Regions from separate parts of the Homo sapiens genome. Here regions 1, 2, 3 and 4 are each linked to region 5. Evidence: fine-mapped expression QTL. A gene starts in region 5. Each other region holds a variant in brackets. All regions are shown on one strand. Distances are from middle to middle. Region 1 has its middle 7.9 kb from the start of MIR3679. Region 2 overlaps MGAT5 (alpha-1,6-mannosylglycoprotein 6-beta-N-acetylglucosaminyltransferase). Region 3 overlaps MGAT5 (alpha-1,6-mannosylglycoprotein 6-beta-N-acetylglucosaminyltransferase). Region 4 has its middle 44 kb from the start of MGAT5. Region 5 holds the start of MGAT5 (alpha-1,6-mannosylglycoprotein 6-beta-N-acetylglucosaminyltransferase).

The links. PIP is the estimated chance that this variant, and not a neighbour inherited with it, causes the effect.
Region 1: its variant is fine-mapped to the expression of MGAT5 in whole blood (INTERVAL, PIP 0.92).
Region 2: its variant is fine-mapped to the expression of MGAT5 in whole blood (TOPMed, PIP above 0.99).
Region 3: its variant is fine-mapped to the expression of MGAT5 in Th17 cells (Schmiedel 2018, PIP 0.95).
Region 4: its variant is fine-mapped to the expression of MGAT5 in whole blood (TOPMed, PIP above 0.99).

Annotation. Positions count from the first base shown.
Region 1 is chr2:134,131,829-134,138,242 of GRCh38, reverse strand. It overlaps a transcript of MGAT5 not described here. Among named protein-coding and RNA genes, the nearest start is that of MIR3679, 7.9 kb to the right of the region's middle. RefSeq lists enhancers at 3,216-3,385, 3,407-4,028, 4,029-4,651. The variant C/T (reference allele first, on the strand shown) is at 2,842.
Region 2 is chr2:134,322,298-134,328,711 of GRCh38, reverse strand. The region is part of intron 4 of MGAT5 (alpha-1,6-mannosylglycoprotein 6-beta-N-acetylglucosaminyltransferase); the gene reads right to left. Among named protein-coding and RNA genes, the nearest start is that of MGAT5, 71 kb to the right of the region's middle. The variant T/G (reference allele first, on the strand shown) is at 3,523.
Region 3 is chr2:134,272,650-134,279,063 of GRCh38, reverse strand. The region is part of intron 2 of MGAT5 (alpha-1,6-mannosylglycoprotein 6-beta-N-acetylglucosaminyltransferase); the gene reads right to left. Among named protein-coding and RNA genes, the nearest start is that of MGAT5, 22 kb to the right of the region's middle. The variant AG/G (reference allele first, on the strand shown) is at 3,485.
Region 4 is chr2:134,206,935-134,213,197 of GRCh38, reverse strand. It overlaps a transcript of MGAT5 not described here. Among named protein-coding and RNA genes, the nearest start is that of MGAT5, 44 kb to the left of the region's middle. The variant G/T (reference allele first, on the strand shown) is at 4,207.
Region 5 is chr2:134,251,851-134,256,850 of GRCh38, reverse strand. MGAT5 (alpha-1,6-mannosylglycoprotein 6-beta-N-acetylglucosaminyltransferase) reads right to left here and starts at 2,779. Exons shown (of 16, transcript NM_002410.5): 1 at 2,207-2,779. The coding sequence starts at 2,447.

The DNA.
Region 1 (6,414 bases), 120 kb after region 5:
TCTTGCTTTCTCAAGCCAAAAAAAAAAGGGCAATGATAGAAGAACAGCTTCTTAATAAAATTATGTTAGGTATCTCACTTTAAAAATTAGGCCTAGGTCAGACTCACCTCTATAATCCCAGGACTTTGGGAGGCTGAGGTGGGAAGATCACTTGATCCCACGAGTTTGAGACCAGTGACCAGTGACCAGCGCCACTGCCCTCTAGCCTGGGCAAGAGAGCAAGACTCTGTCTCAAAACAAAAAAAAAAAAAACAGGCCTAATTGTGCCAACAATCTTGAACACAAATCTGTAATATCAATCAGTGACTCAGAAAGCAACATAACTTTGCTATTTCCATTTGCAAAAAAAAAAAAGAAAAGAAAGGCGAGATGCTATCCCTTCATTGATAAACTTGTTAAATACAAATACATTATCTTTAAACAGTAAGAATATAATGTAATGTAACTGCCTCAATAATAAAACTGACCAATAACATAGAAAAATGAAGCAGAAAAAAAAAATAGAGACTATTCTAGTCCAAGCTTCAGCGTTAATATTTTTTTAAACAAAGAACGAAAAATTATTATTCCCATTATCTTTTCATATGGTTATCCGAGGGATTTGTGTTGAATACAAGAAATCCCTCCCCGCTCTGACTTCTAAAGAAACAGGAAGGAAATGTTCAGCATTTTCATGCTCTAAATATAGCTACAAGTGGAAAGAGATGCCCATGGCAGCACAGCAATGACTTCAAGTCTGCAGCCTGACGAGGTGCAGTACAATAAGCTCTTCTGTGGACAGAGTCATTTCCTATCAAGAGAAGTTTCCAGAAACAGAAAAGGGCTGACTCCACTCTCAGAAATCCAGGTACAGCAGCGGCAGAGCACCCTCTGGGCTGGACTCACTGAGTGGCAAGCGGGAAGCCAAGAGGAAGTGCATTCCTATGGCGCTGACTACCTCCAAGCCAAGCCCCAATTCCTAGGGGATGCCCCTCTGTCCAAAGCCATACGCCAACAGGAAAACACCCCTGGCAACCATGTGCACAACATATTTCTTGGGCAGAGACCTATTTCTTAGAGTGCTGTTGTCGATGATATAACCTTAAAGCATACCAAGAGGAAAACAGGGGGTTAATGTGTATTTAGGGCATTTTCCTGCAGAATGTCTGTGGGTTTTCTCCACTTGAAAAACTGAAACTGAAGCTGAAATCAGACTTCTGTTTAGGATTCAGATAATTAGGACATTTGGCTTTAAATGAATCACATACCTTGTAGTGACAGATATGGCCTTGCTAGAGGAACGTTCTGACAAACTTGCCTCCCTGGATATGATAAACCAGTGAGCCAAGAATAGAGCTCAATTCTTTGACCAGGTCTAAGATAAAAAGTTGGAGATAAGCCCACACCCACTCTACAAACGCACCTGACAGCCTTGGAGAAAGCCCAAGTCAGGAGGAGGTCAACTCTTGATGAAGAGGAGGGAAAGGGGAGCAGTGGGTGTGCAGGGTCTAGAACACACCACAATTCTACTGTACCCCTTGGCAAACTAGGGGCAGCCTATGGACTCCTTCTCAGAAAGACTTTTTTAATGCATAAAATAAAATACACAGGACTGCAGAGGAAATCAATGATATTGAAATACTGTTACCAAAATATTTTTTATATTTATTTATTTATTTTATTTATTCATGTATTTTGAGACAGAGTCTCACCCTGTTGCCCAGGCTGGAGTGCAGTGGTGCAATCTCAGCTCACTGCAACCTTTGCCTCTGGGATTCAAGTGATTCTCCTGCCTCAGCCACCCTAGTAGCTGGGATTACAGGCACCCGCCACCACGCTCAGCTAATTTTTTATTTTTGGTAAGAGACAGGATTTTGCCATGTTGGCCATGCTGGTCTCAAACTCCTGGCCTCAAGTGGTCCGCCCACCTCGGCCTCCCAAAGTGCTGGTATTACAGGCATGAGCCACCGCGTCTGGCCCCCCAATTTTTTTTTTAATTGGTAAATGGCAATACCTGCAGCTTGTATCTTAACACATTAAATAATACTATCTAGCAACAGGTGCAACAACCACCGTAATTTCAAAGTGGTGATGAATACTGGTATTTCAACACACCTGTTAATCATCTCTAATGTGACATGAAAATATTAGATTTCTATTGGTGACAAAGTCACAAACAGCACTAATACTACTGTGACTTATGTCCAACCTTCCAAAGTGAAAGAATTGCCAAATTTTGGCTAGAAGTTAGGGAAAATGAAAGTGTAATATTTTCCCATGCAAGTTCACAGGTTTCCCTGAAACCTTGTGCAGTTATGAAACTCATGTGACAACCTAATTTTACCTTCCATTCCTGCAGTTTTTCCAGAATAATGCAGAGACCTACACGGGAGCCATGGCCCAGCAAGAGCCAAAAACTACCTGTATGCATGGGAGGGTGGAGGTTGTACAACAAGGACAGTCCACCACCCATGGCTGTGGCTCGGGGAGGAGCACTATGGGACCAATATCTCTATTTCTGCTATACCCCACATGTGGGCCAAGGTTTCTTTTTTTTTTTTTTTTTTTTTTTTGAGATGGAGTCTCACTCTGTTGCCAGGCTAGAGTGCAGTGGCGCGATCTCGGCTCACTGCAACCTCCATCTCCCGGGTTCAAGCAATTCTCCTGCCTCTGCCTCCCAAGTAGCTGGGACTACAGGCACGTACCACTATGCCCAGCTAATTTTTGTATTTTTAGTAGAGACAGGGTTTCACCATGTTGGCCAGGATGGTCTCAATCTCTTGACCTCGTGATCCGCCCGCCTCTGCCTCCCAAAGTGCTGGGATTACAGGTGTGAGCCACCGCACCAGGCTGGTTTGCTTT[C/T]TTTAAAAATGCTTCACATTAAAAGTATTAATTCAGCTGAATCATTAGTCTAGAGAAAAAACATTACTTTACAATTCATTTCCCCTAGTGCAATGTTCTAAACCCTATCAGTCCCAAAGCCCCTGGGGCTTACAGTGAACTTATAACACTCTCTTTACTATCTGAACCAAATGCTCAGATAACCTACCTAAACACAATTTCAAACATATACATTTAATGTCCTAAGATTGACAGAAAAGACAATAAAGGAAAGTAATTTATGACAAATCTAATGTATTTCAATATGCAATTAGCTGGGCCAGACCACTCTAAAAGACATAATGGAGCCATTAGATGCCTTCATTTTAATGTGAAATTTTTAAAATGTGTCATGTCAGCTACAAAGATGGACTGATACAGGTGATGTGCTAATTCTACAGGTAACATGAGTTTCCAAAATGGTAAATTTCCTAACAAAAGAAAGCACAACCTTTCTTCATTAACTGGAAACGTCGATGTTTACTTAAAATGTGCAACGATTATTTGCTTATACCTAAGTTAGGTCTAGGTTCAGATTTTGCTTGTCCATGATTGTCTAGTGGGTAACAGGAAACATTTTGTGATACACAACTGTGCTACCCATTACAGATGTTTAGCATCCCTGGTCCCCAACCAATAAATGCTAGTAGCTCTCCTCAATCACTGACAATCAAAATTGCCCCCCCAAATTGCTGATATGCCCCCAATAACATTGTAGGGCCTGGGACTAGACCAGAGTCCTCTCTCCAGGTACCACGCCCTGCCCACCCCTGGGTGATCTCAAGCTGGGCACTGAGGGAAAACCAGAACTGGCATTACAAAAGAAAGATCAGCCTTATTGTGTGGCTTACACCCTGTAACAAATCCCCTTACTCAGAGTTCTGCCCTTGGGACAGGAAAAGCAGAATAGGCAGGGAGGAGAATTAAGCAGCCAGACACATGGAAGCAGAAAGGAGAGCAACAAGGATTTGTGGGGTTCCTAGAGCCTCGATCCCAGGCTGCAGGGGGCTCCTGGACCCTATTCCTGTGTTCCTAATGTGAGTTCTCTCCTTCCACTGAAGCAAGGTCTGGCAGGTTTCTGTTGCTAGCACCCAGAAGAATCTTTATTAATTAAAGGCATCCAACCACCTAGAAGGACAGCCATCCATCTGAACAAAGGGCAGCAGCTAACATCAAAAACGCTTAGGAGTGAAACCATCCCCACAGGGTTGATAAGAATTGCATGCCAGGTTCTGGACTGAAATATGGTTACAATGAAGCACTAGTCAGGCTGCACCTTGGCCCGCTTCCCTGTTGCTAAAAGTCACATAGCACTAGATAGTGGCCATTTGCATCCCCATTGTTCCTATGAGTAGGATTTCTGATATTGGGGTCCTAAGACAGTTTAGGAATTGATTTGCATCCCCATTGTTCCTATAGACAGGATCTCTGACAGTAGTATCATAAGGTCTTTTTTTTAAAGGATGGCTTAAAATGTTTTCAGACCCTGAATGCCAACAACCAGTTTGAAGACCCCCACAGAGGAACGGATCAGCATGAGAATGCAGGTGGTTCACCTCCCTGTCCCATGTTCACCCTGCATTTTTCGACCAATCAACAACCGCCAAGCCTGCCCCTTTCCAAAACCCTTAAAAACTCTAACCCAAACTCCTCAGAGAGATGGATTTGAGGTTTCCTCCCCTCTCATTCGGTGGCCCTTTGATTAAACCTTTCTCTGCTGCAACCCAGTTTCTCTACATATTGACTTGATGTGTGCAATGAATCTATTAAGATTACAGGATAACCTATTCTAATGTCAATAAAAGGACCCTATTTGGGGGATTTTTCTCAGATTTTACCTAAGCTCTTCATGCTGTAGTTTAAGCTCATTTATTTTGATTCCATTCTCACTGACAATAAATAAATGGGCCAGGGACCATCCTTCACCTGGCATTTCAGATTCTACAAAGACATATCCAGATCCCTCTGAAGTTTTTCTGCCTCAGCTCTTTCTCATCAATCCCATGAGCCATGCAACATAAATAACAATGTTGTCCTTTCTTGACAGGCTTGGAAAAATGAAGGTATTGGAGAAATTTGGCCTTTAAGGAGCCAATTAAATCTGAGTTTTAAAAAAATTCCAAAGTCTTTTCAACCACAGAAGTCCATGATTTAATGTCTCTAAATTTTATTCTGCTCAGATATAATACCACCCTAATTCAGAAATGTGGCAATAAGGCCCAGCTGCCAGAAAGGTGGTGTAAGAGAAGCTAGGATCACTGTTTCTTTGCCTTTCCCACTAATGGACTCCATTATATCACCAAAAAAGGCACTGCCGGGATCTAATGAATAAATAACTAGCACTTGAATGGAATTTGTGCCCATTTTAATTCCAGTTAGTTTCCACTAGAAAGCCTTATTTAAAAATAAATTAAGAAGGGGGGGCATAACACTACTTATAATGAAACAATTTAGAAATGCTTGAAAAGTTTCCTATATAAGCCAATCGGGTGTAATGTTAGATGGCAAGGACCTAATTGTTGATTCCAAGTAAACAGAGAAGGGTGAGTTTTCACATCTGCCACATGTGTTCACTGTCATTTCTACAAGGGTATGAGGAGACCAAAGGGTCACTTGAACAGGGTCTTCCAAACAGAAGGTCACAACTAACTGATGGGTTATGAAATCCATTCAGTGCAAAGGTCAGAAAACTTTTTCTTCTCGGGCCAGAGAGTAAATACTTGAGACTTTGTAGGCCAGGTCATCTCTTATCAGTCACAACCACTGGCCTCTGCCATTGTAGTGTGAAAGTAGCCATAAACAACAGAAGAACAAATGGGATTGGGTATGTGCCAATAAAACTTTATTTACAAAATAGGCAGCCAGTCACGTGCCGCCTGACCTCTGACCAAAATTTTTTAAGACAATGAAATAGGACAAAATAGAAAACACCAGAGGCCACGATAAAGGTTAAGTACTTTTTATGAAACTTTTCTTACTGTTACCTACTTCCATATGTGAGCTCTGATTCAGCATGTATTTCTTACTCCAGGGTGGGGTCAAAAGCCACCATATTACAAGATAAACAGTTTCAGAAAGGAAAACTAGTCTGTTTCTGAGTGTAATTGGTAAAAATATAAAGGATTTTAATGGTTTTCTAAAAAGGGAAAAAGGGGCAGATACAATGGCCAAGTTCTTGAACTTAAGTACAATCTTAAAAGAATATTAGTTACAAGTAACTAACAAAAAGATTTTTAAAAGGACACTAAAATTACTTTCTACACTATTCAAACATCTGATACGAGCTGTGCATCAGTTAACCACTGCTCTATAGCAAACTTACCCCAAACTCAGTGGCTTACAACAACCATGGATGATTTACACATCTCTACAGGTCAGCCAGTGGGTGATTCAGGTAACCCTGGCCGACCTAGACCTGCTCAGGAGACAGCACACAGCTGACAGGTCAGATGGCATTGGCTGGTCTATGATGAAATCGGCAAGCACAAACCTGGCCCCCTCCACTGGGCTAGCCTGGGCACGATCTCATGGAGGTGGCGGGGTCTGAAGGTGCAA
Region 2 (6,414 bases), 71 kb before region 5:
GAGGACAGAAACCTCATCTGTCTGGTTCTCACTCTATCTCCAGTCCTGAAAGCAGTACCTGGCACACAGGTAATGTCCAATTAGTATTTGTTAAGTAGTGAATGAATAAATCAAAAAGCATGACTTGGGCACTAAAGAGACTCATGATAATGATACTCTTTTCCACTTACGCGGCGCTTTACTGTTCTCATTTTATTGGAACCGTTCAATAATACACTGAGGGAGGCAAAGCAGACTTTATCTTGACCTCAATGAGGAGAAACCAGACTGAAAACTCAAGGGAAAGCTCAAAGCCACATAGGGAAGTGGTGGGATCCAGACAGCAAATCAGGTCTTGTGTGTTTCCTCTAACACTGTACTGCTGCCCCCTGACAAGACAGGGAGGAATATTATTAACACAAAGTACAGAACTGGCTACCTGCAAGAGACAGAGTACAGGGCCAGAGGGATCCATGAGAGTTCTGCTCAGCATATCAGGGGTGAGGGGGGGTGCAGAATTTAAAGGGATGTTGTAGTAAGTGTTCAGTGTGCCACAAAACCAGTGGGGTTCTAACAAGAGGATAAGACACTTTCAATAATCCATCCCAAATTGCTCTAAGAGGAGAAAGGCCAATTTTCCCTTATACATGAGAAGCAGCAAATAAATTCCTCTGTAGCCAACCAAACAGATAATGCATAGAGATACTTTCTATAGCAACTCTCACTAGGCACAGCTCCCACTGGATGCTGGCAAAACTGGTCCCAACTGGTCTGTATCCACATAAGGACATTTTGACAACTAAAGTCACTCAATTTTAAGAGGTAGTCATATTTTAGGCAACAATGATATAGCTCTTTTTTTGTGTTTAATGTGCAATTATGCTAAGTGACAATGAAAATAAAAAATGGGCAAGAAAGCTGTGCCTTCTAATACAATTGGCTCATTCCATTCTAACAGTCTATCTGAGCCCTTGTATGTTCTCATAATATTACAGAGCATTACAGTAGTCCTCTCTTATCCACGGCTTCACTTTCTAATATTTCAGCTACCCACAGTCAACTGCAGTCTGAAAATATTAAATAAAAAATTCCAGAAATAAACAATTCAAAAGTTTTAAATTGCGCAATGCTCTTAGTAGCTGATGAAACCTTGTGATTCCTGCTCCATCATGCCCAGGGCTGGAACAGCTCCTTTGTCCAGGGGATCCATGATATAGACACAACCCACTCACATTAGTCACTTAGTAGCCTTTATGTTACCAGATCAACTGTCTCAGTATCTCAGTGCCTGTGTTCAATAAACCCTCATTTTGCTTAATAGCAGCCCCAAAGCTCAAGAGTAATGATGCTGGCAATTCAGATATGCCAAAGAGAAGCCATAACATTGTGAAGAAGAAAAAAGTATAGTATATGGAGGGTTCGGTACCACCCTCAGTTTCAGGTACCACTGGGTCTTAAAATATATCCCTCATGGATAAGAGAGGACTACTGTATATTAAATGTGTTAATCAGTGCTCAAAACGCCCCTGCTTCATGTCTCAACTCAAATGTCTTAGCGGATTTTAATGTTACAAAGTTTACAACATTTTTTTTAAGATCGGAAGGGTTAGAGCTAGAAGTTACCCACTCAAAACAAAAAACTATAGCCAATTTTAAAAAATGCTTCAGATAGAACCATTCATTCAATAAACCCATGTGCCAGACATCATTGTACGTGAGAACAAAACAGACAAAACTCTCTGTGGAGATGACTTTGCTTGTACTTGTTGTTAACATTAGGTGTTAATGGTCACTCCAGGGCGACTGCACTTCTCTTCCCACTGCCTGCTAAACACCTGTCAGATATCTGCACTTCTTACTCCCTCACTTTCTTCAAATATGGTCCAACATCATTTTCTCACCTTCTCAGTAGGGCCTATCCTGACCACTCTATCCAAAACTGACACCATCACTTCTCATAAGTACTTCTTGCCCTCTCTTTAGTATTTCTCCCCAGGCATGCACTACAATCTAGATGATACATCTTACTTTTTTGATGTTGCTAGCTATCTCTCCTTACATAACACAACCATAATGAGGAGTGTTTATTCATTGTTACATCTCCAGCAGCCAGAAAAAAATCAATAGCAATTAATGCTCTTGGCACTCAGGTTGTGGCCCCTAAGCATTATTTCTAAGGAAACTGGGGTGGTATGCAGGCCGGGGGAGCAAGATGGTTCTTAGAGATGCTGGTTCCAGGCCTAGGGCAGGAACTGTATGAGATGAATCTGGAAGATCTTGGCATACCACAGAACAAGAAAACTATTACAAACTACCATGGTCATGTCAAAAGGTCTGAGAAAGCAGTATGAATAGGTCCTCACTGGCCAAAGCGGGGCAACTTGACAATCAGTAAGAAAATAACTGCAATGGATTGTTCAAATGTTTTAATCCATTACTACATAACGATAATAAAAAACAAAAAGCAAGCAAGCAAAAAGAAGAAAAGCTGGAAATTCTAGGAAATGAACTGGGAAATAAATGGTTTCTTCTATGAATTTCCTCTTAGGGTGATCACATACCTGATGAAGAGTCACATCTCTGCACAGAAGTATTCCTGATATATTAAGAAGGTACCTTTAATGAATTAATGAACCTGGGCACTGATCAATGATTGCTAACATCAAAAAAAAAAAAAAAAGAGAGAGAGAGAGAAAGAGAAATCAGGCATTATGTGCCTCCCAACTCAAGTATATAATACCATTATCCATGAAATAACTTGCACAAACAATATTAGGCACTATTCTGATCAAACCTCAGAGCTAGCTATCACTTTACTGGAAATACAAGGGGGCAAAGAGCCAGGTTATGCAACAACATGGGCTGTAACCAAAATTCAGAGTAAGACAAACTCTAAGGCAATGAAGCAGTTTCTCTAACAAAAAATTAGAAGGAGGAAAAGTAAGAGACGGAAGAGAACCTAAAATGAAGAGAGATTTAGGAGACATCAACAATTGCAATTTAGGGTCCTTACTGGAAACCCAGTTCAAATAAATAAACTTTAATTTATACAATGGCCTGAAAATGTGAATACTAATCTGATGTGAAGGAATTATGTTAATTTTCAGGTGTGAAATAGTATTAGCAGTTATAATGAGAATAGTTGTACAGTATGTTTTAAAAGTCTCTTTTAGAGATACACATTGAAACAGATGATATGATGCTTGAGATTTGTCCTAAAATAATGAAGCAGAGGAGGTTATAAATGAAATGAGACCGGCTATGGATTGACAATTGTTGAATATGGATCACGGGCACACAGGAGTTTGTTAAACTCTTTTGTAGTACATGCTGGAAATTTTGCATATTAAAAAGTTTAAAACATAATTTTAAAAGTATTTTTAGGGTCATACAATAGAAATTACATGAGACGATATTTAAATGTGTATAAAAAACAAATTGGAGATGACAGCATTGAAGCCCCATCCTGCCACATGTGTTCCAAGAAGCAGTCAAAGAAGTGTTGATTTGGGTTTTGGCAAGTCTTGTCCTTTGCCCTTCTGA[T/G]TTTTGTAGAGTGGAGGCCAGAACAAGAAGTCTAAATATAAATGTTGTGGTATATAACATTCATAAACAGGAAGTGTTGCTAAGAACTTTAGTGGGTGAGGGGCTAAAGGGAGAAACTAACAGATCAGTTAGGCTGACTAACAAATACTGTTCTGTAAACTCAGGATTTTTTTTTTTTTAAATTCTTTTACTAAGGATGTCTTAGAACTCAGGTAGTAAGAGCAACAAATATATACAGATGAAAAAGATACCAATAAAGGCTGAACAGAGAAGGTGAAAAGAACATGATCATAAATCTCTGCCACCTCCTTTACTGCCCAGAAATATTATCTTGAGGAAAAGGAATTTCCCATTTCAAATGGCTGAACATTTGAAGGGTGTGTGTTGGTATTCTCGGGCAACAATCCGGTGATATTTTTAAAGTACTCCCTGACCCACCCCAAAACGTTAGTTGTTTTTACATTCAGGTTTTGTCCTGTAACCTAAGCAGTCTATTCTTTATCACTGCCCACTTTGACAAATTAGTCTGTGCAACACCATTTCCAAGTTATCTTTAGCAGCCAACACAGCTCATAAATCCAAATCATTGTACTGGTTATTAGGATTTCATTTCATGCTCGCATTCACAAACATTTAAGCTTTCAACCTTTCCTGTTGGGCATTAATCTTAGCATTAATCAAGGGATTAAGTATGCTGAATTTAAACTCAAGGTTAATTACATGCTCAGCCAATATTAGTTTTACATACTGCCAAGGGAGAACAGAAAGAAGCAAAGACCTTTACGTCTGTTGTTTATGAAATATAAGAACTAGATTGACAAGTAAGGCATGAAACTGCTTCTTTTGCTCCTTTGTGAAAGAGTCATAGACACACTCTCATGCATCTAGTCCAAATTGGCATTTGAAGCAATAGCTTGCACACATCCTAAGATCTAGCAATCAATCACTGGGCAATTTGATTATTTCAGAGCAACTCTACTTGCAATGGCAACAGAAGTGCATACAAGAAAAGCATAAACAAATTAGGAACTCTGGAAAGGTATGATGCTTCCTAGGTTCTGTAACAACTGTTTAAAAAGAAAAAAAAGTGCCAGTGTCAAATACATCAGTATCATCTATCAACATAATATCAACAGAGATGAAGAAATTCATTCTAAATTTTGTAAAAGCTGATAGCAGTAAAAGGCTCTGCAGATGGTTAAGTTAATATACCTGAAACAATGACATTCAGAGTAATTACTTTATAGGGCCCTGTCTCTGTAATGGGAGTAGTTACATGGCTCACGAAAACAGATACAGAAAATGAACTGCCTGATGTTCTGGAAATACAAGGCTGCCTAATGAATCATTTGCTCATTCCTACCACTTGGAATGGCTGACACCTGGTTTTCATGAGTTATGGCAGCAAGAGAGTTTGTGTTTTTTTGGAGGCGTAGGGTATCGAAATTATGGAGTATTAGACAACTAGCAATGAAGATCTATTCATTCAAGTTAGCTAAATTAGAGCCATTTTCCCATCACAAGTGGATTTAACCATACAACTGAATGCAAAGTCAATGGCTGCAAGTTAGCTACCTAAGATCCGTTTTCCTTCATCATAAAGGAGACAGCAGGAACAAAAAGTGCAGGACTTTGGGGATAAGCGACTTGACCTCTCTGAGCTATCTATGACTTGGCTCTCCATTACTCTTTAGAGTTGGCAAGAGGTTTAAATAAGATTGTGTATAGCTGACCCACAGTATCTGTTGGGGACTGGTTTCAAGACCCCTGTGGATATTAAAATCCTCAGATGCTGAAGTCACTTAAATAAAATGGAGTTATTCTGTATTTGAGGTGTCTGGTACAGTGGAGCATCAATAGTCTTTCATTCTTCTCTTGTCTGCCCCAAAGTCCCACCTCTAAAGAAAGGCAACCACTCAGCTTTTATCTCTACCATCTCTAGTACAGCGTCAGACATATAACAAACAGCTGTGGGGGTATTTTAAGGAAAAATATTGATGGCTTTTCTTCCTGGGATTTAACCAAAAAAGATCCATAGACTACAAGTTGGTGAGGGTGAAAGTACTAACAGAAGTTTCTAATCCCATAACTCAGCGGAAGCTGGTGAACTGAGACAACCCTAAGAAAGAAAAATGAAGGAAGAGTACCATCTCTTAAGACAGGTCTGAATCTAAATGCTCCAATTCCACTAGTGACTGACTATACAAGAGACATTTTACTTCATGTCCTTTTGGCATCTGTTAAAGCTCTGATGTTAAACATAGATCAAAACAAGAACTGGCTCTTTCAATAAGGATTAGGAATAGAATAAAAGTCACTGGTGCATGTGTTGATCACATTAACAACTCAAATGAAGATGTCTCTCTCAATCATCTCCCCAGTTGCAAGAGAAACCTAGATGATACAGGAAATAAAAACGCAGGTTTCAGAGTTAACTTAAATAACAGAATAAGGAAAGTTTCAAGACAGCAGGAAAGAATAAAACCACACAAGTGAACCAACAGCTCCTACAAAGCCACAGATATTGTCCAGGATTTTAAAAATACTAAAAAGGAATTAATCGGTTTTACAAAACATCTCTACTAATCTCACATTAACAATGGTAGGGTGCACTGGGTCCATACGTGCAGCTAATTCCAGTGCAAACCCAAGTATCATGTCCAGAAATGACCAATCAAGGGAAAATACTCTCACCACAAATAAATATGTATGTGAAGTAATGCACATGTTAATTAGCTTGATTTAGCCATTCCACAATGCAGACCCATATCAAAACACCAAGTTGTATACCATGAATACATACAAACGTTGTCAATTTAAAAATAGGCATTAAGGGAAACAGCTGAATTTCTATATTACCAGAAGTCAAAGGATCTAAAATTGCATTACACT
Region 3 (6,414 bases), 22 kb before region 5:
AAGCTCAGCACTGAACTGAAAAGAAAAATATGAGATCCCACCCATGCCTTTGAGGAGCTTACAGACTGGCTGTGAAGACAAGCAAAGAGTGGAAAAGTCCAAGGACACACATGGTAGGAACACAAGGCAAGGACATCACAAACCTCTGGGATGTGAGGGGCATCAAGCAAGTCTTAGGGAGACAGAGCTTCAAATGAGACTTGAAAAAAGTGGTAAAGAAGAGTCAGCCAGAACAACAGAAGCATGCCAGGCTGTGGACAAAAACATGTTAAGTGTGTAAGAGCATGAATAAACTGCAGGCAGGGGTTTGGGCTCGTTCCAAGTGGGGCTGAGGCACATTTGGCCACAGTAGTGCTTAAAATGGAGGCAGAAATTTAGCAGTCCTGAGGCTTTGCCCTCCAAACACTCAGGGAGAGAAAAGCTTGAGTCAGGTTTAGGATAGCTCCAGAAAGCCAAACCATGACATGACCAGGGTCTCTAGTAGCCATATGCATTTTATCTGCTCATCTGAAATCTCTTCAGGGACCCTCTCCTATACCATGAATTCCCAGGGGTGACCCATGTGACCCAGGCCTAGCCAATCAGGATGGAACATGATACTGGTCACTCTGACTGGATCATGAATAGGCATAGAGGCCAAGCCAAGCCAATCATGACCCTGCTCTAGAGAGTTGCCAAAACTTCCTGGAAAGCAGCACAGCCGTCTGGGACTGAAAACTAAAACCTAGAGCCTCCTTGGGACCATCCATCTCTGCCCTCACCATGCAAAGATGGCCTAAGAATGAAGGCAAAATAAAAGACAGAACATATTAACATAGCCTTGAAGGACAGCATCACTTCTGAACTGTATTTTCTTCTTAATGATAAAAAGCAAAACCCTCTTGACAACACAAAGTGAAAACTATACCAACAATGAGAAGAATTTTCGGTAAACATACCAAAAGAAATGGCTTCTGACAGTATCCAATACCTGAGAGGACACAGCTGAGGTTCTTAAAGATGGCTCCCATGTCTGAACCTCTCAACAGCATCCCACAAACTTTCAAATGACATGAGCCCCAAGTTCCCTTTTAGTTTAAGTTAATATAAGCTAAGTGGTTGGCCTCTTGCAACCAAGAGATTATTGACAAAACATGAATTTCGTGATGAGCTAAATATTGATAACAGAGGCACAAAAAGATCAATTTGGGAACTTCAAATTTAAAGTGTTCCAGTGAAACACTATATACAAAATTATTTTCTAATCTATAAAGCACTATACACATATTAATTTCACTATTAGTGGTGATATCCAAATAAGAAGTCACTACAGTGTTCCATTTTTATGTCAATATTCCAAATATGTAACTTTTAAACTGTAATTAACAAATGCTCATACAGTACTGACTTTATGCCAAGCATGTTTCTAAGAACGTTATTGGTCTCACCTAATCCTCCTGACATGGTTTGGCTCTGTGTCCCTACCCAAATCTCATCTCAAATTTTAATCCCATGTCAGGGGAGGGAGCTGGTGGGAGGTGAATGGATTATGGGGGCAGTTTCCCTCATGCTGTTCTCATGGTAGTGAGTTCTCAGGAGAGCAGATGATTTTAAAGTGTGGCACTTCCTTGCTCTCTCGCTCGCTCTCTCCTGTCGCCATGTAAGACGTGCCTTCCTTCCCCTTCCACTATGATTCAAGTTTCCTGATGCCTCCCCAGCCATGTGGAACTCTGAGTCAGTTAAACCTCCTTTCTTTATAAATTACCCAGTCTCAGGTAGTATCTTTATAGCACTGTAAAAATGGACTAATATACCTCCTAACAATACTGTGAAATGGACACTACTATTATTTCCCCCATTTTACAAATGGGGAAACTCAGCCAGAGGAAGGCTAAGAAACTTACCCAAAGTCACACTGCTATGAAGTGGTGGAGCCAGTATTTGAACCGAGCCAGTCTGGTTCCACAGATGCTGCCTTTCATTGTCCCTCATCCCCTCAACACTAGCATCAAAGTTTCAACTGCCTTTAAACCGATATTCTGAAACAAATGGCTTGTGGCTACAGTCCTCATGGAACCTTGTCTCTCTGCTGGGTTGTTTCCTCAATAATGAGTCACCCAGCTATCCTTCAAGCTACACCCTTGGAAATAATTATGACAAATTCTCCCTTGCCCTGTCCCACGGTCTGTCCGTGTCCCCATAACACCAGCTTCACCCTAACGTGGGTCTCAAATTCTTTCTCCCTGGGCCATAGGAACATCTCTAACCCAGGGCATTCTCCTCCTAACTGAAGATTAAATGCAGTCTCTCTCACCCATTCATATGCATTTCACTCCACATGGCCCATAATTATTCTCTGGAAATACAGACCTCACACCTATTCATCCTCCTACTTTAAACCTCTCATCAACTGCCACGGCCCAGGGAACAAAATAGAAACTCCTTCATTTAACATTGAAAATGCATCACAAATCCCAATTAACTCTCTAGTCTCATTTTCTTCAATATTGCTCCAAGTATGCTGTCAAGGGTATTTTCTGATGTAAAGTAGATCTTTGGGGACCTGTCTTGTTTTCTTTAACTTATTTAATTTACTCTCTCATATCTTGATAATTATATACTTTGCTTAAAATAACAAAGAATTTCTTCTAAAACATTCTGCAATTTAAACCCATTCTCTAAGACTACTTTGTACCATTGTTATCCGGAATTAGTGGTCCTTTCACGAGAAGAAATAATTACCTTCTATAGAAGCAGAAGTAAAATGTACATTGCCAAAAGCACACTGTGGGCCAGGAAAGGAGTTCCTTAAGGGCAGGATCCTAAAATAGTCTTCTGGGAGTTTCTAAAATCTCTTTCCTTGGAGGCCTCCAAGACCAGTGGCAAAGCTAAATGAGGTGGAGATTGGCGGGCGGCGGGGGTGGGGGGGCTTGTGAACAGCCTTGCTAGGAAAAGGGAAAGGAACTTTAGGTCTCAGCTGGCAATCAGGAAACTTCAGCGTCTCAGGCGTCTTTCTGCACTAACCATAGGTGAAAATATCTGCTGGCACCAGATTCTAACAGTATCTCATAGATCGGAATTTCACAAACCTGCCACAATTGACATTTGGGGCTGGATACTTCTATTATGGGCAGTGTCTTATATATTGTAGGATGCTTTTTGCAGCATCTCTTGTCCTCATCTATTAGAAATAAATAGGCCAGTCACAGTGGCTCATGCTTGTAATCCCAGCACTTTGGGAGGCTGAGGTGGGAGGATCGTTTGAGCCTAGGAGCCCAACCAGCCTGGGCAACATAGCAAGACCCCATTCTCTACAAAAAATAAGAAAAAAGAATTTGCCGGGCATGATGGCACATTGCCTGTAGTCCCAGCTACTCAGAAGGCTGAGGCGGCAGGGGGTGGGGACATGGAAGGTCGAGGCTGCAAAGAGCTGTGATAGTGCCACTGCATTCTGGCCTGAGCAACAGAGCGAGACTGTCTCAAAAAAAAAAAAAAAAAAAAAAAA[AG/G]GAAATAGCACCTCTTCATTTGTGAAAACCAAAATGTGTCCTGACATTGACATGTGTCCCCTGGGGGCAAAATCGCCCACAGCTGTTAATCACTGCTATAAATTCACTTCCTCAAAGATCACCATCACTTCTGAACTGTCTTTCTTCTTCTAAATAAAAACAAAATATCCTTGACCACACAAAGTGAAAACCATACCAACAAAGACAAGCATTTTTCTGTAAAGATACCAAAAGAATAGCTTCTGACAAGGGTCCACATATTTATTGTTACCATTGCAAATAACAAAACAGAAAGTGACAGGTAGATAGACAGAACATATTTGCTTCTTGCTCAACTTAATAGGAAGCCACCTGCAATCTCATCTCTCTCCCGTCTCTCAGTAGCATCTGGGATCTCACTGACATACCAGTATCTGACCCTGGGAAAGTCATCTGCTGAGCCACTGCCCAGGGGTGGAGCTGGGACACTTCAGGTGCTACTTCAACACAAACTGATGACATGGGTACACATACAAGGAAAGAGCACAGGTACAACTAAATTTCAAGGTCCATTAGCAGCACAAAGAGGGGGAAATTGCACTTCCAAATGCAAGCCCTGGAACTCAGCAGGGACATTTTTCATTTTCAACTTTCAAATGGTAAGAATAATAATAATGGTTGCTGTTTTTAAGAACAGCTTCCAAATTCAAATACATTGCACTTCAACCCCAAATACTAGAAAGTGTTGCATATCGCTCCCCACTTTGGAAAAAATGCAGGGTTGCTGTAAGTTCAACTTGGATTAAATACCAGGAAACTGTCGCTTGAGTTATACCTGTACCTTTGATTTTGTGGTTCTGCTTCCCAAGTGACCTTGCAATTATTAAGTCATCACAACACCACTTGGATGCTATCATTATGGTTTTGGCTTTTAAGGAACAGTCAGCACTGGCCAGTTATTCAGCTGACCTTGAATGACAACTCTTTATTGAGAGTATAAATAAATGTGTACACATGCACATACATACACTACCCCGTAGAGAGCTACACAATGTTCTTGTCCTCTAAAGTATCACAATCTAGGATTGTAACTATCACATCTAGGATTGTAACTATCACATCCTATGAAGCCTCCACATCCCATAACCATTGATGGGAAGTTCAGTCCTGACCAACAAAAAAGGCAGTCCCACTTCTTAGGCGGTGTCTGCTAAGGTCTGAGAACTAGGGAAACGAAATACCAAGTCCGACTTCTAGGCAAATCACCACAAATGTAAATTGAGAAGAAGAACTATAAGAAGAAACTCTTCCAGGTGGTGAAACCAAATGCTGTTCCCTCCAATAGAAACCAATCCATGTGAGCAATATTTACTGAATTATCTTCAACAGGTAAGGCTACAATCAAGACACTATGGGCAGAACAAAGATATATCAGACATTCAGTCCTTAGAAGGCAAGCATTTTCATGATCAGATATGTATACTTTTTACCTTTTCCCCATTTCAGGTACATGACAAAGAACCACAGATCCAATCCTATTCGCTCCACTTCCTCACTTAAGATCACAAAACTAGAGAAAGACAGAATGGGTCTTTCTAAAATTCAAAGCATCATTCTAAAAGGAGAGAATTTTGACGAAGGCCCTTCAAGCCCTTTCAGAAAGTGAATATGGAGAAATTAATTTACTGTGTGATTGGTGGAAGGGTGGGGATTTTAAAAATCTGCTTTTTCATTCCTTTGAGTCCCCTTTCTCTTCAACAAGACAAACAGAGCTCAAAAATCCAGTTCAATCTGATTTCTTGATTTTAATAAAGCTCATTTCCACCTAAATTTCCCTAGGGGCAAATTTACTTTCACATTAAAAAACCCTCGGTGATAAATTTGTGAAGATAAGCCATACTGGATAAAAGCTACACAGAACACAGCTAGAGAGAAAAAATAAGGAGACACACAGACACACACACACACACACACACAGAGCTATCCCCCTAAAGAAAATAAATTTAGGGAATCCTTCTTCAATTGCTATGGTACCCAATTTAGAGACAGTTTATAGCCAACCAGAAGATATATTAGCAAGCAATAAGACACAACAATAAGCAATCAGAAACATCAGTGAGCAATAAGACACCAGAGTCAGCTGTAAAGACACACCAGGGAGAACATTTCTGAGCAATTACCGCATGTCTCCATTCAGGAAGGGAGAGAGAAAAACTTTACTTGGCGAGGATTGGAACCCCATAAAACTGAACTCTCACAGCTCAGGAGCCATTCTTGGGTTGACAGAGGGGTCTGAAGACATCAGCATGGTTATGGATCAGAGAGAGGGCAGAAAAGCAAGGAAGGGCTGCTCATAAATGAGAACTGTTCACTTAAGTCCTTGTCCTTCTTTCTGGTACTCTATAGACATGGCAAATCGTTTTTTAAAAATATGTAGTTGACTGACAAGATATAAAGGACCCCCCCCCACCTTCTGGGGGAAATGAAGAAGGCTGTCCAGCATATCTATATCCACTTTGGCCAAGACAGTGTCTATGAAAGGGATGCCTCTGCATGCATGCACGCGCACGCGCGCGCGCACACACACACAGACACACACACACATACACGGGCCAGCTTTTACAAACATTAGCCTGAGAGCAGACACTGAGACAGAGAAATCCTTAATGAGACAGATGATTAAATCTAGGAAACTGGCAGCTCTCTTCTAGGTAAGAAAATGGTAGCATCTTTTTACAGACACATGCCTTTATGATAATTTACAAATGGAAGGAGAGATGGAGTTAACACTCAGAATCTCTTCTCTACATAGCACTAGCAGATCTGAAGCTGAGCTCAGGGGACTCCAGTACCAACAGTCACCCACTCCCAAGTACTTAAACTCAACAAAACCTGTGAAAACCCTTCTCAGAGATGCTAAGAAGATTAAGTAAAATCATGTACATTGGAG
Region 4 (6,263 bases), 44 kb after region 5:
CCAATAGTCCAATTTGTTACCAGCCTGTCATCTGGCTGCCTTTCTTTCCTCTAAGAAAATGAAGTGAGGGGCATGCAAAGTGATGCTTTTACCCAAGTCAGCAGCAAAGACTTCCTGAAAATAAAATGCAAATATCCAAAAGGCCTATGCAGACCTGACTCTTCCAAACAGCAAAACAGTATTTCAATGTCAAGGAGAAGATGAGACAAACATTTTCCCACACGCATCAACTTCAGCAAATCAGCATTCTATGCCCAGTGAAGCTCGGCATTCAAGCTGGCTCACTTACGCCATCACTCAGGAGACAAGCAAGTCTCAAGGTCTTACTGATATCTTCCCTCTCTCTGGAAGATAATAGTTGGATACACTGGAACTGAATAATAGAGGATTATCTCTGGAGAAGTGCAAGAATACAATGAAGAAGAGGGAAACAGACTGAAAGTATGGGGAAATCCAACCTCTTCCCACCATTTTCCATGGAAAACTCGATTCTTGATTTTTCAGGAAGTTGGAGCTGTCCCAAATTTCCAGAGAGCTCTGATTTAACATTTTCCCAAGGCTGGGCAAGAGGCAACCCAAAGATCAAGTTGATCATTTTACGGGGTTTTATGTTGTTATGTTAAAAATAAGCCAGTTCTTATCTCTCAGACCACAGTGCAATCAAACTAGAACTCAGGATTAAGAATCTCACTCAAAGCCGCTCAACTACATGGAAACTGAACAACCTGCTCCTGAATGACTACTGGGTACATAACGAAATGAAGGCAGAAATAAAGATGTTCTTTGAAACCAACGAGAACAAAGACACCACATACCAGAATCTCTGGGACGCATTCAAAGCAGTGTGTAGAGGGAAATTTATAGCACTAAATGCCTACAAGAGAAAGCAGGAAAGATCCAAAATTGACACCCTAACATCACAATTAAAAGAACTAGAAAAGCAAGAGCAAACACATTCAAAAGCTAGCAGAAGGCAAGAAATAACTAAAATCAGAGCAGAACTGAAGGAAATAGAGACACAAAAAACCCTTCAAAAAATCAATGAATCCAGGAGCTGGTTTTTTGAAAGGATCAACAAAATTGATAGACCGCTAGCAAGACTAATAAAGAAAAAAAGAGAGAAGAATCAAATAGACACAATAAAAAATGATAAAGGGGATATCACCACCGATCCCACAGAAATACAAACTACCATCAGAGAATACTACAAACACCTCTACGCAAATAAACTAGAAAATCTAGAAGAAATGGATACATTCCTCGACACATACACTCTCCCAAGACTAAACCAGGAAGAAGTTGAATCTCTGAATAGACCAATAACAGGCTCTGAAATTGTGGCAATAATCAATAGTTTACCAACCAAAAAGAGTCCAGGACCAGATGGATTCACAGCCGAATTCTACCAGAGGTACAAGGAGGAACTGGTACCATTCCTTCTGAAACTATTCCAATCAATAGAAAAAGAGGGAATCCTCCCTAACTCATTTTATGAGGCCAGCATCATTCTGATACCAAAGCCGGGCAGAGACACAACCAAAAAAGAGAATTTTAGACCAATATCCTTGATGAACATTGATGCAAAAATCCTCAATAAAATACTGGCAAACCGAATCCAGCAGCACATCAAAAAGCTTATCCACCATGATCAAGTGGGCTTCATCCCTGGGATGCAAGGCTGGTTCAATATACGCAAATCAATAAATGTAATCCAGCATATAAACAGAGCCAAAGACAAAAACCACATGATTATCTCAATAGATGCAGAAAAAGCCTTTGACAAAATTCAACAACCCTTCATGCTAAAAACTCTCATTAAATTAGGTATTGATGGGACGTATTTCAAAATAATAAGAGCTATCTATGACAAACCCACAGCCAATATCATACTGAATGGGCAAAAACTGGAAGCATTCCCTTTGAAAACTGGTACAAGACAGGGATGCCCTCTCTCACCGCTCCTATTCAACATAGTGTTGGAAGTTCTGGCCAGGGCAATCAGGCAGGAGAAGGAAATAAAGGGTATTCAATTAGGAAAAGAGGAAGTCAAATTGTCCCTGTTTGCAGACGACATGATTGTTTATCTAGAAAACCCCATCGTCTCAGCCCAAAATCTCCTTAAGCTGATAAGCAACTTCAGCAAAGTCTCAGGATACAAAATCAATGTACAAAAATCACAAGCATTCTTATACACCAACAACAGACAAACAGAGAGCCAAATCATGAGTGAACTCCCATTCACAATTGCTTCAAAGAGAATAAAATACCTAGGAATCCAACTTACAAGGGATGTGAAGGACCTCTTCAAGGAGAACTACAAACCACTGCTCAAGGAAATAAAAGAGGACACAAACAAATGGAAGAACATTCCATGCTCATGGGTAGGAAGAATCAATATCGTGAAAATGGCCATACTGCCCAAGGTAATTTACAGATTCAATGCCATCCCCATCAAGCTACCAATGACTTTCTTCACAGAATTGGAAAAAACTACTTTAAAGTTCATATGGAACCAAAAAAGAGCCCGCATCGCCAAGTCAATCCTAAGCCAAAAGAACAAAGCTGGAGGCATCACACTACCTGACTTCAAACTATACTACAAGGCTACAGTAACCAAAACAGCATGGTACTGGTACCAAAACAGAGATATAGATCAATGGAACAGAACAGAGCCCTCAGAAATAATGCCGCATATCCACAACTATCTGATCTTTGACAAACCTGAGAAAAACAAGCAATGGGGAAAGGATTCCCTATTTAATAAATGGTGCTGGGAAAACTGGCTAGCCATATGTAGAAAGCTGAAACTGGATCCCTTCCTTACACCTTATACAAAAATCAATTCAAGATGGATTAAAGATTTAAACGTTAGACCTAAAACCATAAAAACCCTAGAAGAAAACCTAGGCATTACCATTCAGGACATAGGCGTGGGCAAGGACTTCATGTCCAAAACACCAAAAGCAATGGCAACAAAAGCCAAAATTGACAAATGGGATCTAATTAAACTAAAGAGCTTCTGCACCGCAAAAGAAACTACCATCAGAGTGAACAGGCAACCTACAACATGGGAGAAAATTTTCGCAACCTACTCATCTGACAAAGGGCTAATATCCAGAATCTACAATGAACTCAAACAAATTTACAAGAAAAAAACAAACAACCCCATCAAAAAGTGGGCGAAGGACATGAACAGACACTTCTCAAAAGAAGACATTTATGCAGCCAAAAAACACATGAAAAAATGCTCATCATCACTGGCCATCAGAGAAATGCAAATCAAAACCACTATGAGATATCATCTCACACCAGTTAGAATGGCAATCATTAAAAAGTCAGGAAACAACAGGTGCTGGAGAGGATGTGGAGAAATAGGAACACTTTTACACTGTTGGTGGGACTGTAAACTAGTTCAACCATTGTGGAAGTCAGTGTGGCGATTCCTCAGGGATCTAGAACTAGAAATACCATTTGACCCAGCCATCCCATTACTGGGTATATACCCAAATGACTATAAATCATGCTGCTATAAAGACACATGCACACGTATGTTTATTGCGGCATTATTCACAATAGCAAAGACTTGGAACCAACCCAAATGTCCAACAATGATAGACTGGATTAAGAAAATGTGGCACATATACACCATGGAATACTATGCAGCCATAAAAAATGATGAGTTCATGTCCTTTGTAGGGACATGGATGAAATTGGAAACCATCATTCTCAGTAAACTATCGCAAGAACAAAAAACCAAACACCACATATTCTCACTCATAGGTGGGAATTGAACAATGAGATCACATGGACACAGGAAGGGGAATATCACACTCTGGGGACTGTGGTGGGGTCGGGGGAGTGGGGAGGGATAGCATTGGGAGATATACCTAATGCTAGATGACACGTTAGTGGGTGCAGCGCACCAGCATGGCACATGTATACATATGTAACTAACCTGCACAATGTGCACATGTACCCTAAAACTTAGAGTATAATAATAATAATAATTAAAAAATAAAAAAAAAAATAAAAAAAAAAAAAAAAATAAAAAAAAAATAAGCCAGTTCTATATACAATCCCTCTGCCCATCCACCTCCTCATCCCCGGTAAATACACAAAAACAAAAGAGGAAGACAAGTGACTGCAAGTGACACAGGGGAAGTGAGGTCTGGGTCTTCCCATGCACAAGGCCTCCTTCATGCTGAT[G/T]TAACAGAACACCAGGAAACCCTGCTCCCAGAACACTGGGGAAAAACAGACACTGACCACAACACTGGGGCATCTCCTTATTGATTCTCTCGGTTATTTATTTTCCCCAGAGGCTGGGAGTAAGATAATGCTTTCCTAAAACAAAGAATATGGTATAAAAACAAAATTTTTTAGAAGTCCAGCCAAGAAAGGCCACATAGGTGGGTAAGGTAATGTTTTATTAAATGTTTACATTCCCTAGATATTAAGTTTCAGAACTTGTCTAGGCTCTGTTCCCTTGGGCATTTCATACATAAGTAATACAAGTTCTTCCTTAGCTTTTATCCACAAATGGGATAAAGACCATGTTTCTGGTATACATATGCATCTATGTTATTTATATTATAACAACTATAGTAAATAAATGCATGTTTTTGCCTGCTGGGAATAAAGGCATATCCTATCCTCATTTCTCACATATTCTACTTAAAATGTTCCTAAGTAGCTTACCAGCTACTCTCTTATCTGCTGAAACTAACCAAATTCTGGCTGATGGTCAAAGACTATTTCCCTTGGGCACCAAGCTTCCTAAACAGTCAGGATGGTCTAATAAGGTTTTTTCTGAGTGTGGTACATTTACACCGTAGCATACATACTAATAGTTAAGTATTTGTTGCAACATGCATACGCACATCAAATTCATAAGCTGCTATATGCTGTCAATTAGAATGAGACCAAATTAAAATAAATGAGTTGATGCAGGATAAACTGAAGAAAATATGTTAAGTAACAAGTATAGGTGGTAACGTGAATATGGTGGAAACTAAGTCCAAAGTTTGGAAAATACTGGTCTGCTTAAAAAAAAAAAAAGTTCGGCCAAGAGTCTGAAAACTCTGATTCTATGTGCTGTCTTAATGTGTCCTTGGGGATCCTTCACTTATCATCCCTAGGCAGGCCTCACTACAATGATAGCAACAAAGCTGATAGGGTTAGGACAGTGTGACAAATGTGAAAACTTTTGGAAGTAGAACGCAAAGTCTTTTCACCTTCCAATCAGGTGTGACCACTGGCCAGCTGAGAAGCATGGACCTTTAAGTTATGACACACAAACCAACAAGGTATCAGAGTCAATGCTAATCCCTCTCCTTAAAACCTCCCTGAGTTGTGGAAAGTCATCTTGCCAAGCCTCTGGGCAAAGACCTCCTGAGGTTGGCTTGGTGGCAGGCAGGGGGCGGTAGATGGCAAGAGCACAAATGATACATATCACTGCAACCTGGTGTCTGATCTCAATAACACCTCTGCACAAGACCCCTGGTAAGGCAGGGCTTTCCAAGGTCAGGATTTGCCACTAAGCTCTTAAAATCTCTTCTGATCCTAGCAGAAGTAAACGATCAGTATCTCTGGTAAGCAACTGTATTTTTCTTTTTTTTTTTTTTAACCTTTCAGTGTCATTGTGAGGTTTGCCACATGCCTTGAGAAATAAAGCCCAATCTGAATGCTCAAACATGAAAGTCTGGCTGGCTCAGGCAATTGGAAGAAGATACCCATGCATGGTAACCGCTGAATGACAAGTTAGGTTTCCTGGAGAGAAAGACCTAACTATTCACCTTATATACTTAAATAATTGCCTCCTTTTTAAGGCAAAATAACAGCTCCTAAAGATGTCTCTGTCATAGCCCCAGAATCTGAGTATGTTACACCTTACATGGCAAAGGGCAATTAAGGATGCAGATGGAGTTAAGGTAGCTAATCAGCTGACCTTAAGATAATTATCAAGGTGGGTCTAATGCAATCACAGCGTCCTTAAATGCGGAAGAGGGAAGCAGAAGAATCACTATCTAAAAAGTGTCAAAGACTGGCTTGAAGACATAAGAAGCCATGAGTGAAGGAATGTGGACAGACTCTAGAAGCTGGAAGAGTCAAGAAAACAGATTCTAAGAGCCTCCTGAAAGGAACACAGTCCTGCTGACACTGGATTAGCCCAGTGAGACTCTGTATTGGTTCCCTATTGCTGCTATAACAAATTGTCATTAATAATTACCTATACTTAGTGGCTTAAAACAACAGAAAACTCTTCT
Region 5 (5,000 bases):
GAGAAAACTAGCAGTGTCAGTTAGAGTTGCTGATGTGACCTGTTTGATTGTTTCTTTGTTGTTTTTGAGAAAAAGACAAATTATTTTGCTAAGGTTCATCTACGAAAGTAAGTTGGAATAAATAATTTCTATAGTTTCTTTGAGATGCAAAGTCTTATGATTACAGGCATATAAGGTGGCTGAAATTCTAACAGCCTATTCTGGGATTTTTTTGTAACTTAAAAAATAATATTTCTGTGAGGCTGAAAAGCTAAGACCAAATTATTGTCCTTTAAAATGTGGGGAAGCCTTCCCTATGAGATTTTCATCAATACACAAGAAATACAAACAGCCAAAACAACTGCAGAAATTTAAAGCCTATAAATTTGCTATTTGTGGGGCTTCTTCTTGCCCATGGAAAAGGTTTGACAGACTGAGAGAAACAAGAGAAAATTACCACTGAGCTGTAACTCTTTCCCTTCAAAGCTGTAACATGAAATGCATACAACCAGAAACTTTAAAACTGCACCTGTGTTACCTGCTGTGTCATATACATTGGTAACACTAATGGTGACAATCAGCTTTATTTTCTGTTGGTTTATCTAAACTACTCTGGAAATGTTACACAAATGTGAGTCAATGAGCAATTTTAAAATGCAACTCTAGGAAAAACTACCTAGTTACTTTTCAGTGTAAGCTCCCACAGTGGAATCTCATTTTTTAAATCCATCAGTTCAAAAAAGGTACCATTTTTTTAGATATATTAAAAGCCAATGCCTACAGACACTTTTAACAGATTAAATGCAGAGTGTGATTATTTACATAGTAAGAACTAGAAAAGAATTTCTAAAATGTTCCTCAGAAGTAAGCATCTTCTAATATATACACATACACACACACACATACACATACGTGTGTATAAAATTTTACATACTTTTTTAAAAACAAGTTTTTTTCCCCTTTTGGAAAGAAAGAAGCACATGTATAACTGAGTATGATTTCCTGTGTCTGAACTCAACCTGCACTGAACTGAACTGTTGCTGCACATTTTTGGGAATCACGATTTGAAATCGGCATACTTCAGGGCACCTTCCTTGAGTGGGTCACAAAACACAACTCCACTTTCTCCACCTCACCTAACCCCATTCTTGCATCTCATCTATACTATCAGGGAGACCACTTCAGTGAGACCACTGAAACCTCAATTCAATGATCAGACTCTTGTCACTCAACAACAGGTCATCTTCTACAGACCAAGTCTGCTCTGCAAAACACAGCATGATCTAAATTCCATTTGCAATTTTTTTCCAAGTATTTGTGTGTGTATGTGTATGTATATATATATGTGTGTGTATATATATATGTGTATATATGTGTATATATATGTATATATGTATATATATGTATATATATATTTGTGTGTGTATGCAAAGTATCAGAAAAATACACACTGAAATGTTAATTGTGGTTATTGCCTGGAGTAGTAGACTTATGTGTAATTTTTTTCTTTTTTTGCTTGTCTACAGCTTCCAACTTTTTCTATATTAAACATAAAAGAAAAATAAGTTACATCCCATATGTGTATTTTTTTACTCTTTCTGATTTCAAAAAGAATTCTGAAAAAAATTCTTTAAAGAAAAAGCAACAAGTACACAAAGATTCCTTTCAAAGTGAGGGCAGTTAGAGACAAGGGCAAGAAGAAGAGCAACATAACCTCAAGAAGCCAAAGGTTAAAACTCACCAGCATGCAAGTGCCAGTGTCATATTTATTGGCTGGAGGGAGGAACACAATTGGCTCTAAGTTTACTGGCTTCCATAGAACATTCCTCCCCATCCTCTTCACCTCACCCCCACCAGCCTTAATTAAGTTTTGTTTAGGGAAAGATGAGAATATTTTTCAGCATTCCCTGAACTCACTCCCACATGAGATCACATGGTTCCTGAAATGTGTTCAGGGAGAAGGAGCTAGCTGCAAACACAACCAATAGAGCCCTAACTATACTAACCCACTGACTCCAGGGGAAAGTGTGTCTGCATACACCAGCTCAGAACCCCCAAAATGGCATTGCTTTAATTTCCTAAAGATGCCTCTCTGTGTGCAATTCACTGCTTATGAAGGCAGTGGCAAAGGACATTCAGTCCATGACAAGACCATATCTGGGAGCTTCTAGGGCCATTTCAAGGCCAAGGCACACTTTAATGGAGAGGTCCCAGAAACAGTGCTTACCATAAGCTGTCATGACTCCAGCGTATGGCCCATCCACCACATTCCTGTTTTCTTCTGCCAGTGCCTTGATGTACCTTTTGCTGAGGTCCAGGATCTGCTCGCGCAGCATGGAGCTGCTTTCAGGCTGAGTTCGCTGCTGGATGGTAAAGTGCAGAAGCATCATACCCCAAATGAAGCCAAAAGTCACCAGGAAAAAGCCCAGCTTCTGAGAGGACAACTTCCACGGAGTGAAGAGAGCCATTGCTCTCTGGCAACTTCACCTGTCCTTGGCTCTTAACGCGTAGAAGATAGACACAAATTCATGGTGTAGGTTGAGTGTGAGAGTCTGCTGGTCTCACTCTGGCTCCTGTGTCAGCTGGTTGCCTTTCCTCACTTCCATTCTGCTGTGAAGGAGGAGAAGAATTAGCCAAGTGGTCATGGCACAATACAGCAAAATAAACCAGAAGCCATGTTTTCACTTGAATACCTCTAAGTAAAATGTCAACTCTTAAATTTGCTGGTTCAATATCTTATGATTCAGGAACTGTAAGCTGAGGGGAAATCTGGCTAGGCAACAAGAAGCTAAGCAATTATGAAGGGGGAAGTGTGCGTCTGCGTGTGTTAACAGGTGTAGTGGGGCTGTTCCAGCCTGGACCAAATTCAAAACAGGAAGTTTGTTTTGCAAGGTGGGGAGGAGACAGAAGGATATTTGGCGGAATGTCAGCAAAAACGGGGAGGGTGGAGTCATATCACCATCAGGCCCTTTTGTGTGCCTGTAACTTAAGCTTACAAAGTCATTATTATGTGCTTCTGGCAAGGACTAGAACATGCAACTGGTGAGGTGAGCAAGAAAGTGGATGCCCCCTTGGGGGTAACTAGACAAAGAAGAGGTAGATTGCTACATCTTATTTGAGCATGGCCAGCTTTCACCATCAGTGTTTAGTGATGAGATGGCTCTCTCAGGGCCACCAGGCAACCTCTCTAGGTGCACCAGCACAGAGAAGATATGCCAGAGGTACAAGCAGGGGTATTGCTTTCCCAGCTACATGAGGAAAAGGTACACCTCACTGCTCACTTGCATGCTGTAGCACAAGAAATGTGGAACACCTGGCAGGCAGATTTTCTGTGGTTCTCACTTTCACTCCCACCATGAGGCAAAATGAGACATTAAAAGGCAGAGTAGTTTCAATATTAATGCAGCCAGATCCTATCTAATGCCAGCACAGACCAGGCCACTCTTCTCAATCAGGGCTTCCCAACAAGTAGGACCTGAGCATAGGTTGCAAATGGTTACCAGCATGCCCACCCCTTCAGCCAGAGTCCTGGGCCCAATACCAGTCAGCTTACGAATAGCGCCATTTTCTAAGTGCCACTCAAGGGAGAGGCTGAGCAATGATCCGATCCCTTATAAGAGACTAACCCAGGCTGTACTTCAGAGTGTACATACATGCTTCAGTCAAAGGATTCTTCTTTGCAAGCGGCCCAAAAGAAAATGGTAGCAGGATCTTGAAGCAATTAGCTTTCAGAGCCCTGGATCACTGTTGGTCTGCCTCTTACTGTTTTCCCATTGCCTATCAACAGAGTAAAAATAAATTATAAATTCTAGCTATATCCCAGATATTGTGACATACCATCTTTTGTGGCTTTGCTCACTGAATCCTCAGAAGTTCTATATGGTAAGAAGTATGAATATTATCGTCTCTGTTTTATTAGAAACATGAGAAAATAAAGGTAAAAGGTGATTAACTTGGCAAAGGTCAGCCAGCTATGTGGCAGAGGACTGATCATCTAGGCATGGCCCAGGGGTTATTAAACCATGCCCCACCTTCCCTACATCATCCTCACTCCCCCAACAGCCTGTTTGTATATGGCAGAGAATGATATATATATGCTTAATGGGTCATGAAAAGCAATAAAAAATATGTAACAGATACTCTTTGTAGCCCAGAAGGCCTAAAATATTTACTATCTACCTCTTAACAGAGAAGGTTTGCCAACCTCTCAATTCTAGACCAGTGGTTCTCCAAATGTGGTCCCAAACTCAGTAACAGCAGCATCACCAGTGAGAAATGTGAATTCTCAGGCCCCACCCACACCCACTGAATCAGCAACTGAGGAGATGTGGTCCACAGCCTATCCTTTAACAAGCCTCGAGGTGATTCTGATGCACACTCATGTTTCAGAGCCCTTGACCAGGCAGCCTGATTCCAGACCCATACATTCCATCACTATTCAACACCCACCACAATGCCTATTAAAATGAGGCTCAACCTCTGTCTTGTACTATCATAACGTAAGTTCCTCTGCCCCATCACACCCCTCTCCCACTACGTACCTGCTGGTCTGCTCATTACCATAAACCCTGCACATGCTTCCTGAGAGGCTTCCCCTTCTTCACTCGGCTGCTCCTCCCACCCAGCTGGCACATGAGTGCTCTCTATTATGCTGACAATCAAACCCAGCCTGTTTGCCAGACCCCAGCTCTAGTCCCACCACCTGCCTCAGACCACTTTCCCCAGGGCTCCAGCCTGCAGTGTTCCTTTCCTAGTCTTACAACACTTCTCTGACAATGGAATACTATTCAACCAGAAAAAGAGAGAGAAATCCTGTCTTTTGCAGCAACAGGGATATACCCGAAGGACATTATGCTAAATGAAATAATCCAGGCACAGAAAGGCAACTACCGTACAATCTCACATGCAGAAGCTAAAAAGTTGCTATCATAGGAGATAACAGAACAGTGGTTACCAGGGGTGGGGAGGAGAGAGGGGGATGAGGAGGGAGTGGTCAATGGGTAAAAAGTTACATTTAGGAG